Linked DNA regions of Homo sapiens. The protein of the gene in region 1 interacts with the protein of each later gene in a pairwise test. Each region holds a gene or a part of one and is shown in the gene's direction. Other genes may lie near its edges. The genes, in order: HCN1, FMR1 and MARK3.

Region 1 (3,656 bases):
AACTAAGTTTTATCACTTTTTTTGTATTTTTGGATCAACTTTACATTTTATCTTTATATTAGGAATTGAAAATTTGCACATTTAAATTAATCTCAGCAGAGACATAATAAAATGTTTGTAATATAGACTCAAGCAGAAAAAAAAAGCCTTGATAGTAATGCCCTACATAGATGCTTTACCTCGCAAACATCAACATATTTTAAAGTCTTTTCTGCTACCAAATAAAAAAATATATATATACAACCATTAGGCCTTATTAGTTATGCTAGTTTGAAGATTTGCATAATTGCCATAGTAAAGTTAGCTTGGATTGGCTTGCTGTTAACATTCCTAGATATCCTGGAACATTATGTTGTAAGGTAGTATGCATTCATTTTCCACACCTAAACCCTCTTTGCCACCCTCCCCTTCTCTACTTTTTTTTGGTCAGCTCGACTCTGCTCAACCTTCCTCTCTCTGTTTAGATATCACCTCCCTCTAGAAACCTTCTCTGACCTCCCACTCCCTACTAAGCCCAGTTCCTTGGATGCATTCTCCTATAGCCTCTGAAGCTCCCCCATCACAGCACTGCTTTTATTACTGGCTCTAGAGATGCTAAATTTGTCAATGTAGAGCTCATGTTTAATTCACCATTACATTCACAGTACCTAGTATACAATGAATATTTGTTGAAGAGAGGTAGGAAGGGAGGAAGGAATAAATGAACTCAAAAAAGATGGGGCTGGGATCACTTGTGATAAACAAGGAGGTACCTCAACTGCTTCATTCTTATTAAAGGTAAGGACTTCAGATTGATAAATTGTTATGTTGGCTTTTTTTCTGCACTTCACATTCACATCTTCCTTTCTCTCTATATTAGTAGGACAGCAGACTGCATAGAGATCTGAAAATAGATTAGAAGTAAAGGCAGTATTTGGACATCATCATTAGATATAACAAACGTATTAGAAATTCATATTGAAATCTTAGAGATTTAACAAGACCTACTCATTCAGGGAGACAATACCCACAAAAGAAGTAGGCACTCCTGAAGGCATCCTTACTTAATTGGAAAATAACTTCCCTCTTTGTAGTGTGTGAGTGTTTATGTTAGAGACAGAGACTAATTTCTAAGCAATGAGTTTCTTCCTAAACCAGCTAGACATCCTTAGAGAAAACATTAAAATCAGGATATTTCACTAGATAATTTCTGTTAATCTGATACAGCTTCACTTTCATCTAACTTATTGCAGTTAATTTTTTTTTTTTTTTAAGACAGAATCTTGCTCTGTTGCCCAGGCTGGAGTGCAGTGGTGTGATCTCGGCTCACTGCAGCCTCCGCCTCCCAGGTTCAAGCAATTCTCCTGCCTCAGCCTCCTGAGTAGCTGGGACTGCAGGTGTGCACTGCCACGCCCTGCTAATATTTTGTATTTTTAGTAGAGACGGGGTTTCACCATGTTGGCCAGGACGGTCTTGACCTCCTAACCTCATGATCCACCCATCTCAGCCTCCCACAGTGCTGGAATTACAGGCATGAGCCACCGCGCCCAGCCTGCAGTTAATTTTTATAACAATATTTACATGAAATGGTTCGTAATCAATACAGGCAATGCAATTTCTAATAGGCACTAAGCAATTGAATTTTTGATCTTTATAACATAGTAAGAGTGTATTAAAAGTTACATTATTTTTCCCAAGGTTAAAGATACTTAGATTAAGATATTTTGACTGTTCACATAATCAGAAAGAAACATTATGCTTCTCGGTTTTGTGGCCATTGCATATAGATGTATGCTGCAGTTAGTTAAGCAAATATGCTAAATAAGCATTTATATTTATTACTAATGTAGGAGTTTTTGTTCTTTGGGAAATTAGGACAGTCTGTAAGTAGGGAGAGGTAACTATTTTGGCAGTCATTTAAAATGATTGCATTCCTAGCAGTCAATGAAATTACAATACATATTTATCTTCAAAAATATATTTTGTTACCTTTAATGTGTTAGTTTATTTAGCAATATCGCAAATTGATTCACTTTTCAGTTACCATATTCACTTGGAGATTAGTGTATCAATGATGCCATAGAAAAGTCACTACTTTCCCCTTCTTTCACCAATCCACTATTCATTCTAATAATTATTATGCCAGAGACTGTCTAGTATTGCAAACCACTCAGAAGATGATGGCAGGAAAAGCTGTATTGCAAACCACTCAGAAGATGATGGCAGGAAAAGGTAAAATTTATTGAGGTCTTAGAGGGAGCTGAGAGCCTGCAATGCACTATGCCCTTGGTCCTCACAACAACCATTCAGAAGAGGAAAGATCATAAAGTCAGTCTCAGTCTTGGCTGCATTTAAGAATTCCCTGGGGAAGCTGGGCGTGGTGGCTCACGCCTGTAATCCCAGCACTTTGGGAGGCCGAGGCGGGTGGATCACAAGGTCATGAGATGGAGACCATCCTGGCTAACATGGTGAAACCCCATCTCTACTAAAAATACAAAAAATTAACCGGGCACGGTGGCGGGCACCTGTAGTCCCAGCTACTCAGGAGGCTAAGGCAGGAGAATGGCATGAACCCGGGAGGCAGAGCTTGCAGTGAGCTGGGATGGTGCCACTGCAACTCCAGCCTGGGCATCAGAGCGAGACTCCGTCTCAAAAAAATAAATAAATAAAATAAAATAAATAAATAATAAATTTTAAAAAAAGAATTTCCTGGGGAAATTTGCTTTTAAACTACTGAAATTCAGAGCCCATGTATGATTATTTAGATTTAATTGGTAGGGAACAAGTGGATGTTAGTATTTTTTAAAGCTCCAGAGATAAGAAAAATATCCAACTAGGACTGAGAATGACTGGTGTAAGACACTGGGTCAAAAGCAAAACCTGATACAGTCCTCCTCAGATTTGCATTTGGGAATCACCTGGGGATCTTAGTAAAATGCAACATCTGATTCAGCAAGTGGGGTCAGGCCCAGGAGGCTGAGTTTCTAGCAAGCACACAGATGAGACAGGGGCAGTTGGTTCATTTTCCATAGCAAGGATGTGCAATCACTTTTTTGTGTATATGGTCTTTCTCAGCCCTGTTACCTGCCAACCATGTTTTTTTTTTGTTTTCCTGGGCACTGTTCTTAGTCTTCTCATGTCCTGATCTCCTTTCAGGTAAAATGAGATTATGAACACACCTATCTGACAGGGTCGCGGGTTACATAAAATCATCTACCTAAGGTCTTTTGTAGAGTGCTTATCACATAGTACGTGTTCAAATGTTCTCGCTTATGTCTCCATGGTCCTTTCTTGAAAAAGTAACTTTAAAATCAAATGTTGATTCCAAGCCCATCCTATTCCAAAAGCCCTTTCTTCCCCCATTCTTCAAGGTGGCCCTCATGTTAAATATCTCCATTTCTTCTGTAAAGTGGCTCTTTGCCATATTACAGGCCGTTCAACTTGAGTAGAAGGTAAGAGTTCCCAGAGAAATACAGGAAGTGTGAAAGGTAGGAGCCACATTGGTATTTGGTGTGTAAAGGTGAGTGACTGGCTTTTTAAGCCTCTCCTGTGAAGCACAGCTATACTTCTGTTTGCAGGAGCCACTCTCACTTGGCGTTGTCATCAGTCATTGGTAGGCTTTCTAAGTGCCTATCTTTCTTTTGCTGACAGGAAAGAAAAATTCAATTCTTCTGCAA
Region 2 (3,656 bases), on another chromosome or scaffold:
CCATTTCTCTTCAGAGTTCAAGGCAGCTTGCCTCGAGATTTCATGAACAGTTTATCGTAAGAGAAGATCTGATGGGTCTAGCTATTGGTACTCATGGTGCTAATATTCAGCAAGCTAGAAAAGTACCTGGGGTCACTGCTATTGATCTAGATGAAGATACCTGCACATTTCATATTTATGGAGAGGTAAATATTTTACTGCATAGTTTTTTTTTCCCCAAACAAGTATTTCAGCTGGCTAATCTTTTGTCTTAAAATGTTTCCCCTTTTATTAGGATCAGGATGCAGTGAAAAAAGCTAGAAGCTTTCTCGAATTTGCTGAAGATGTAATACAAGTTCCAAGGAACTTAGTAGGTAAGTCAGAAGTATCTGTTGACATATAGTACAACAACTAAGTTTAGGTAAACAGTTTATTTATAGTGATAGAATTCCATTTTTTCTTACTGGAGGGTATCATTTAATTGAAACATAGTCTTTGAAATATGATCTGTTCTTTTTTTTTATTATTTAAGTTTTAGGGTACATGTGCACAATGTGCAGGTTAGTTACATATGTATACACGTGACATGCTGGTGCGCTGCACCCACTAACTTGTCATCTAGCATTAGGTATATCTCCCAACGCTATCCCTCCCCCCTCCCCCCACCCCACAACAGTCCCCAGAGTGTGATGTTCCCCTTCCTGTGTCCATGTGTTCTCATTGTTCAATCGATCTGTTCTTACAGCATACAAAAAAATATTTGTTAAGTATGATGCTCAAAGGTTACATTTTCAGAAGGTATTCAAAAGAGATTGCTTTTCTAGTTCAAACCTACTAATACCTGAAAGGATAAATCTTGCCCAGCCCTCCTGACTGTATACCTTTTATATCTTAAAATTAAATAATTTTTCAAAATGAATGATATTTGGGGACTTTATGATTTGAAATAGATTTGTATTTGATCTTTCTTATGGGACTATAAAATGATAGCATTCATTTTAATTATCTCAGGGTTGAAGATCTGAACATAGGTTACTTAAATCTAAAAAGTTCCAAAGCTAGAAGAAACTTCAGATGTCTCTGGGACTTTCTGCAAAGTCAATAGTAATTCTTCATTTTGACTTGAGTAGTGTTTTATCACCATCACCATCGTGAGTATCAGCAAATATTTAGGAGCTCTTCACCAATACTCCTAAATGCTGCAGATATCTTTAGTAGAACATATCAAAACCAGGTGCAGTTTTATCAAGAAAGCTACATATGTTTTTAATTTGTAAATAAAATTGGGACATACTGCCTATATGTTTTTTATCTTTTAAACTTGAGATCATGGCCATTTTATATAAAGTAATACATGTTCTTTGGAAACTTTAAAGAAGAAAGCAAGGACTTCTCATACATTCTGTTTACGTAGTTTCAATGCTAATTTAGCCTGCTTTTTTGTCAGCATAGACTCATAAACATCTTCCTTGTCATTAACAAACACTAGAAATGATAAATGTATCTCCCAAAGAAAATTAGCTTGAAGATAAAGTGCAAATAGTAGGAAAATAATGCAGAAGTGTTAGCTCAACTGTGTACTACAGACAACTGGAGAAATGTGTTTGTAATGTTACTAAGGTAACTTGCATACCAATTGTATGTGTACAGAATGTATGCATAGCGCAAGATAAAGTGCTAATCTCAAGACAGTTGGGTGATGAATAATATTTATTTTCTTCTTTACAGCTTGTCAAGCAATTGCATACCTTTTGTAGTTAGAAAGGTTATTGTAAATTTAGGAATTCTTATGGAAAAAGAGCTGGTAGTTGTTTTGTTTTTTTTTTTTAATAGCAAATGAGTAGAGAATTATGTGTCAGATTCATTAAAGTTGGTTTTGAAGATGGCATGATGGTAGTGGGGAAAGTGCTTGGGCATTGGAGTTGGATCTGGATTTCAGTCCTACTTTATTCTTTGGTGGCAATGTGAGCGTGGGTCACTGTCTTAGCCCCCCTGAGAATTATTTTTCTTACCTATCAAATGTGATAATAGGATCCACCTCATAGAGTTGATGTGATAATTAAATTGGAAGATATAGTAGGGGACAATTCTGGACACAGTAGGGGACTCTGTTCTTCACCTTATTCAAAACAACTCCATTTCAGTAGAACAGAATCACAGTAAATTGCTCTTTGGGATTTGGAAATAAGTGTAATGTAGAATTGGATTATTTGCTATTAAATATTAAAAGTAGATTCTACCTGTGGTTACCTGGAAAGAAGAGGATCTCAGAAATAACCAGAAAGACTGCTAAAAGTAAATCAGCCTTGTTTTTGTTTTGTTGTTTCTAGTTAGTAAAATGAGATAATTCTGTTTTAGAGATGGTCCACTGCAACACTGGGAACGTTGGAACTTTTCAGAAAGCATTTTTGTGTAAGATTCTGCAAGGCAGATCTTTAGAGAGGTGTCATAATCAGTTTTGCATGTGTTTTGTTTGAGTCAACCAACGTTATTTGTGATCTCTATTTTTCACAAACTCTCTTTGGTATGTGCACTAATTTATCTTTTCATTAAAATTGGATTCTTCACTCACTAAGAATGAATTGGTATGACTATTCAGTCAGCTATAGTTAACACACAGTACTTAGGATAATTAAGATATTATCTTAATAAAAACATCCCCAAATCTCATTTTTCATTTTGTTAACTCACTTAGATCTTTATTAAAGTCAACATTAATTCATGAAAATGTAAGTGTTGCAGTTTAAAATCAAACTGTGTGAAGACTCCAAGTAGCTTCTCTCACCTCACCTTTCCCCTTTTCGTTATAGAAGAACAGAAATAATTGACAGAAGGACCTAGACCAAGAATCCTGATTTAATGGTGTCAGATCTGTTCTATGACCAGTCAAAGAGTTTCTAGGGGTGAATGAGGCAGCCACACACAGCAAGAATGTCAAAGCTATGCTCTGATTACAAGAGCCACAAGAATTTTTTGTGAGAAGGCTTTTCACTGAGTTCTTATCTAGCATTGGCTCAAAGCAAATTTTTGCTTCCATCTTTTCCCCCAACTTTGCCTTGAGCTTTGCCTTTAAAGGCGAAAAGGAAAAAATGGAAGATGAGATGGTGAGGGCAAGCACATGGTGGATGTGGCCAATGTAAGGGTACTTAGGTACCTTGGGTGAGCCCTCAGAATCAGATGTAGTTCACATGTACATTTCCAGAATTAGTAATTCTTAAGTTTGTAATGTCTTGCTTTACCACTCGTGTCATGATGCAAATGAAAGCAGTCATTTTCCAGTAATGTATATGATTGTAAAATAAATAAGGAAATGATCAAGTACCTATTTTTTACTGGTACTTGAAATCCCAAGTTTTAATAGATGTTACTGAAAAATACTTAAATTGGTTTAAAGCTTTTTCATTGTGGTTTTGAGTTATCTTAAAGTGGGTTTTCTTAATCTTTTACTCTGTGACTAATCCCTTCACTTTTTAATACATTGCTAAAGTTTGTAAGTAATGCACAGGAGTGATACTCTGTTAACACATTGACCTTGAAGAATTTGTATTCCTTTTGGATGTATGTATAGCTGCTTAAGCCACTTTCAGACTTAGATTATCTTTTATAAATGTGCCTTCCATACAGAATTCTGAAAATATTTACCATGGACAAAGAAGCAGATTTAAATCAGGTACAGA
Region 3 (3,656 bases), on another chromosome or scaffold:
TAAAGTGCTAGGATTACAGACGTGAGCCACCATGCCCAGCGCTAGAACTGGGCGCTGTACCGAACTGAATAGAACTGCTAGTCTGTAGTTCTATTCACTCTCTTCACCTCTGCATTGGATTTACTTTGTAGAGTAGCACTGTCCAGTAGAACTTTCTGAGATGATTACAGTTTTGTGTATCTGTGCTGTCCAGTCAAGAAGCTACTGGCCACTTGTGGCTATCAAGTACTTGAACTGAGGAAATGATTTTTACCTTTTTTATTTCTATTTATTTTTTATTATTTTTATTTATTTATTTATTTATTTATTTTTCAGATGGAATCTGGCTCTGTCGCCCAGGCTGGAATGCAGTGGCATGATCTTGGCTCACTGCAACCTCCACCTCCCAGGTCCCAGCAGTTCTCCTGCCTCAGCCTCCTGAGTAGCTGGGATTACAGGCATGCACAACCACACCCGGCTAATTTTTGTATTTTTAATAGAGACAGGGTTTCACCATATTGGCTAGGCTGGTCTTGAACTTGGGAGCTCAAGCAATCCACTCACCTTGGCCTCCAAAAGTGATGGGATTACAGGTGTGAGCCACCGCGCCTGGCCTTATTTATTTGTTTATTTTTTGAGATGGAATTTTGCTCTTGTTACCCAGGCTGGAGTGCAATGGCATGATCTCCGCTCACTGCAACCTCAGCCTCCGAAGTAGCTGGGACTATAGGCACACACCACCACACCTGGCCAATATTGTATTTTTAGTAGAGACGGGATTTCACCATGTTGGCCAGGCTGGTCTAGAACTCCTGACCTCAGGTGATCCACCCACCTTGGCCTCCCAAAGTGCTGGATTACACGTGTGAGTCTGTAATTGGCCTGGCTGATTTTTACCCTTTTAAAATTTTCCTGGCCGGACATGGTGGCTCATGCCTGTAATTCCAGCACCTTGGGAGGCCGAGGCGTGTGGATCACTAGGTCAGGAGTTCGAGACTAGCCTGACCAACGTGGTGAAACCCCATCTCTACTAAAAATAAAAAAATTACCTGGGCATGGTGGTGTGTGCCTGTAATTCCAGCTACTCAGGAGGCTGAGGTAGGAGAATCGCTTGAACCTGGGAGGCAGAGGTTGCAGTGAGCCAAGATCGTGTGACTGCACTCCAGCCTAGTGACAGAGTGAGAGTCCATCTCAAAAAAAAAAAAAAAAATTTGTACTTAAGTGTAATATATAGCCAGTTGTGGCCAGTAACTCTCATAATAGACAGGACAGCCCTGGAGAATATATGGAACCTCAGTTTTGCCTTAATTGGTTTAAATGTTGTACTGTGTCATTCTCATCCATACTCTTGCTGTTAGTGTGGTTAAGCCACTCTCCCTTTTAAACTTCACCTAGAAGCCAGTCCTTTATGAGACATAAGACTCCCAGTGGGTAGGCTTACCAGGCTCTACAGTTGCTCTGCCTTCAAGGCAGCCTGTGTGTCAGAGTCCTGAGGCTAGCGTGTGTGTTTACTTGCCCATAACTATAAATGTTAACATTGCAGATATTTCCTTTAATTCTACTATTCCAGGATTCAGGAACTAAATCTATTTTTTTTTTTTTTTTTGAGATGGAGTTTCACTCTTGTCACCCAGGCTGGAGTGCAATAGCGCGATCTCGGCTCACTGCAACCTCCGCCTCCTGGGTTCTAGCAATTCTCCTGCCTCAGCCTCCCGAGTAGCTGGGACTACAGGCATGCATCACCATGCCCAGCTAATTTTTTTATTTTTAGTAGAGACGGGGTTTCACCACATTTGGCCAGGCTGGTCCCGAACTCCTGAACTCAGGTGATCCATCCACCTCAGCCTCCCAAAGTGCTCGGATTACAGGCATGAGTCACTGCGCTCGGCCTCATTTTATTTCTCTTCTCTGGACATTTTCCATCTTAATACTTTCATCTTGAGATTTGACACTTAGGACTGCACAGGGCATTTTAGGTGTGGACAGCTTTGATTTTGTACTAAAAATGATTACACTTGGCTTGATTTCCATTTCTCTTCCTTCTGTTGCTTGCCTTTCTACATGGTTTAGACTGAAGCAACAGTGTACTAATATCACTAGTAAACCATCTACAGTGCCTGCTATTCTAGGGTGTAACTGAGAGCTCAGAACTCATTCTCACATCAGGATTTGTGCTCCTAGCATTTGTAGGTGACGTGTTGATCTAGGTCTGCCTTTTTTGTGTTCATGTTAGTCACTAACAAGGGGGGTTTCTAGTGCTTATGGACCACATGGCAATTAAATGCCCATATATTGCCCTGAAACCATCTGGTTTAACTTGTCCCTCAATCCTAGAAGAAACCTGACAATGGGATTTTCACATTTCTCTAAGGAATATGTTAGTAAGTTATTCCTTAAGCACATAGATTCCATCCAGATTATTAGTGCCTTTTTCCCCCCAGCTCAATTTTAGAGATAAAAAGAGCTTTAGACATGGTATTGTACACTCACCAAACCTCTGTTTTATCCCTAAATAGACCAAGAGAGATTACCAAGTCTCCCAAGGTTACATAGTAAATGAGAAACACCTGGGGCAGAGCTCAGGCCTGCTGGTCCAAGCCCTGTGTTTTTTCTCCACTGAAGCACCTCATTGGAGTAGCTTTTTCATAATCCTCATCTTTCTTGGAATTTCTGAAGGCAGGCAAGCCTGTATAGCCGGGCTAACTTTCACCTCATCCTCCTGCCTCGTCTCACCTCTCCCTTCCCTTTTCCTTGCCTGTGGATGCTGACCTCTGCATGGGTGCCTGCTTCTCTAAAGCTACGATGTAATCTGTAGCTGTCCTTCCTCGTTTGAGACCCACATGTGAACACCCCATATGTGTGCACTTTTTCTGCGAATGGTGATCATCTGATTTTCAAGGGGTTAGCTTGTTTTTTAAAAAATGAAAAAAAAAATCACTGTTTACTAATCAATGAGTGGTATTGGGGCAATTTGGTAGTTCTCAGAAAAAAAATTAATTTGGATCAATTTCTCACATCTTATACAAGGATGAATTCTAATTGGAGTTAAGATACAAATATAGGGCTGGGCGCAGTGGCTCATGCCTGTAATCCCAGCACTTTGGGAGTCCGAGGCAGGTGGATCACGAGGTCAGGAGATCGAGACCATCCTGGCTAACATGGTGAAACCCTGTCTCTACTAAAAAATAGAAAAAATTAGCCAGGCGTGGTGGTGGGCACCTATAGTCCCAGCTACTCAGGAGGCTGAGGCAGGAGAATGGATGAACCCGGGAGGCGGAGCTTGCAGTGAGCCGAGATCGAGCCACTGCACTCCAGCCTGGGCGACAGAGCGAGACTCCGTCTCAAAAAAAAAAAAAAAAAAGATGTAAATAAAACTCCAGAAATATTGAAAGAAACCTTGGGATTATTTGCTTTGTAACTTGGACTGGTGAAGGTGTTTCTGTCACCCCAAACACCAAACCCATGAAATAAAAGACTTACAAATTTGATTACATAAAAATGAAATTTCTGGCCGGTCGCATAATCCCAGCACTTTGGGAGGCCGAGGTGGGCGGATCACGAGGTCAGGAGATCGAGAACATCCTGGCTAACACGGTGAAACCCTGTGTCTACTAAAAATACAAAAACAAAATCAGCTGAGCTTGGTGTCAAGTGCCTGTAGTCCTAGCTGCTCAGGA

Evidence for each region.
Region 2: the proteins of HCN1 (region 1) and FMR1 interact in binary tests that used the Homo sapiens proteins (3 or more experiments, as listed by UniProt).
Region 3: the proteins of HCN1 (region 1) and MARK3 interact in binary tests that used the Homo sapiens proteins (3 or more experiments, as listed by UniProt).

The regions. Positions count from the first base shown.
Region 1 is NC_000005.10:45,262,785-45,266,440, reverse strand, and holds part of HCN1 (potassium/sodium hyperpolarization-activated cyclic nucleotide-gated channel 1), read left to right. Parts: intron 1-3,630; coding exon 3,631-3,656. UniProt on the Homo sapiens protein: Hyperpolarization-activated ion channel that are permeable to sodium and potassium ions. Displays lower selectivity for K(+) over Na(+) ions.
Region 2 is NC_000023.11:147,932,411-147,936,066, forward strand, and holds part of FMR1 (fragile X messenger ribonucleoprotein 1), read left to right. Parts: intron 1-14; coding exon 15-185; intron 186-274; coding exon 275-353; intron 354-3,656.
Region 3 is NC_000014.9:103,468,888-103,472,543, forward strand, and holds part of MARK3 (MAP/microtubule affinity-regulating kinase 3), read left to right. Parts: intron 1-3,656. UniProt on the Homo sapiens protein: Serine/threonine-protein kinase. Involved in the specific phosphorylation of microtubule-associated proteins for MAP2 and MAP4. Phosphorylates the microtubule-associated protein MAPT/TAU. Phosphorylates CDC25C on 'Ser-216'.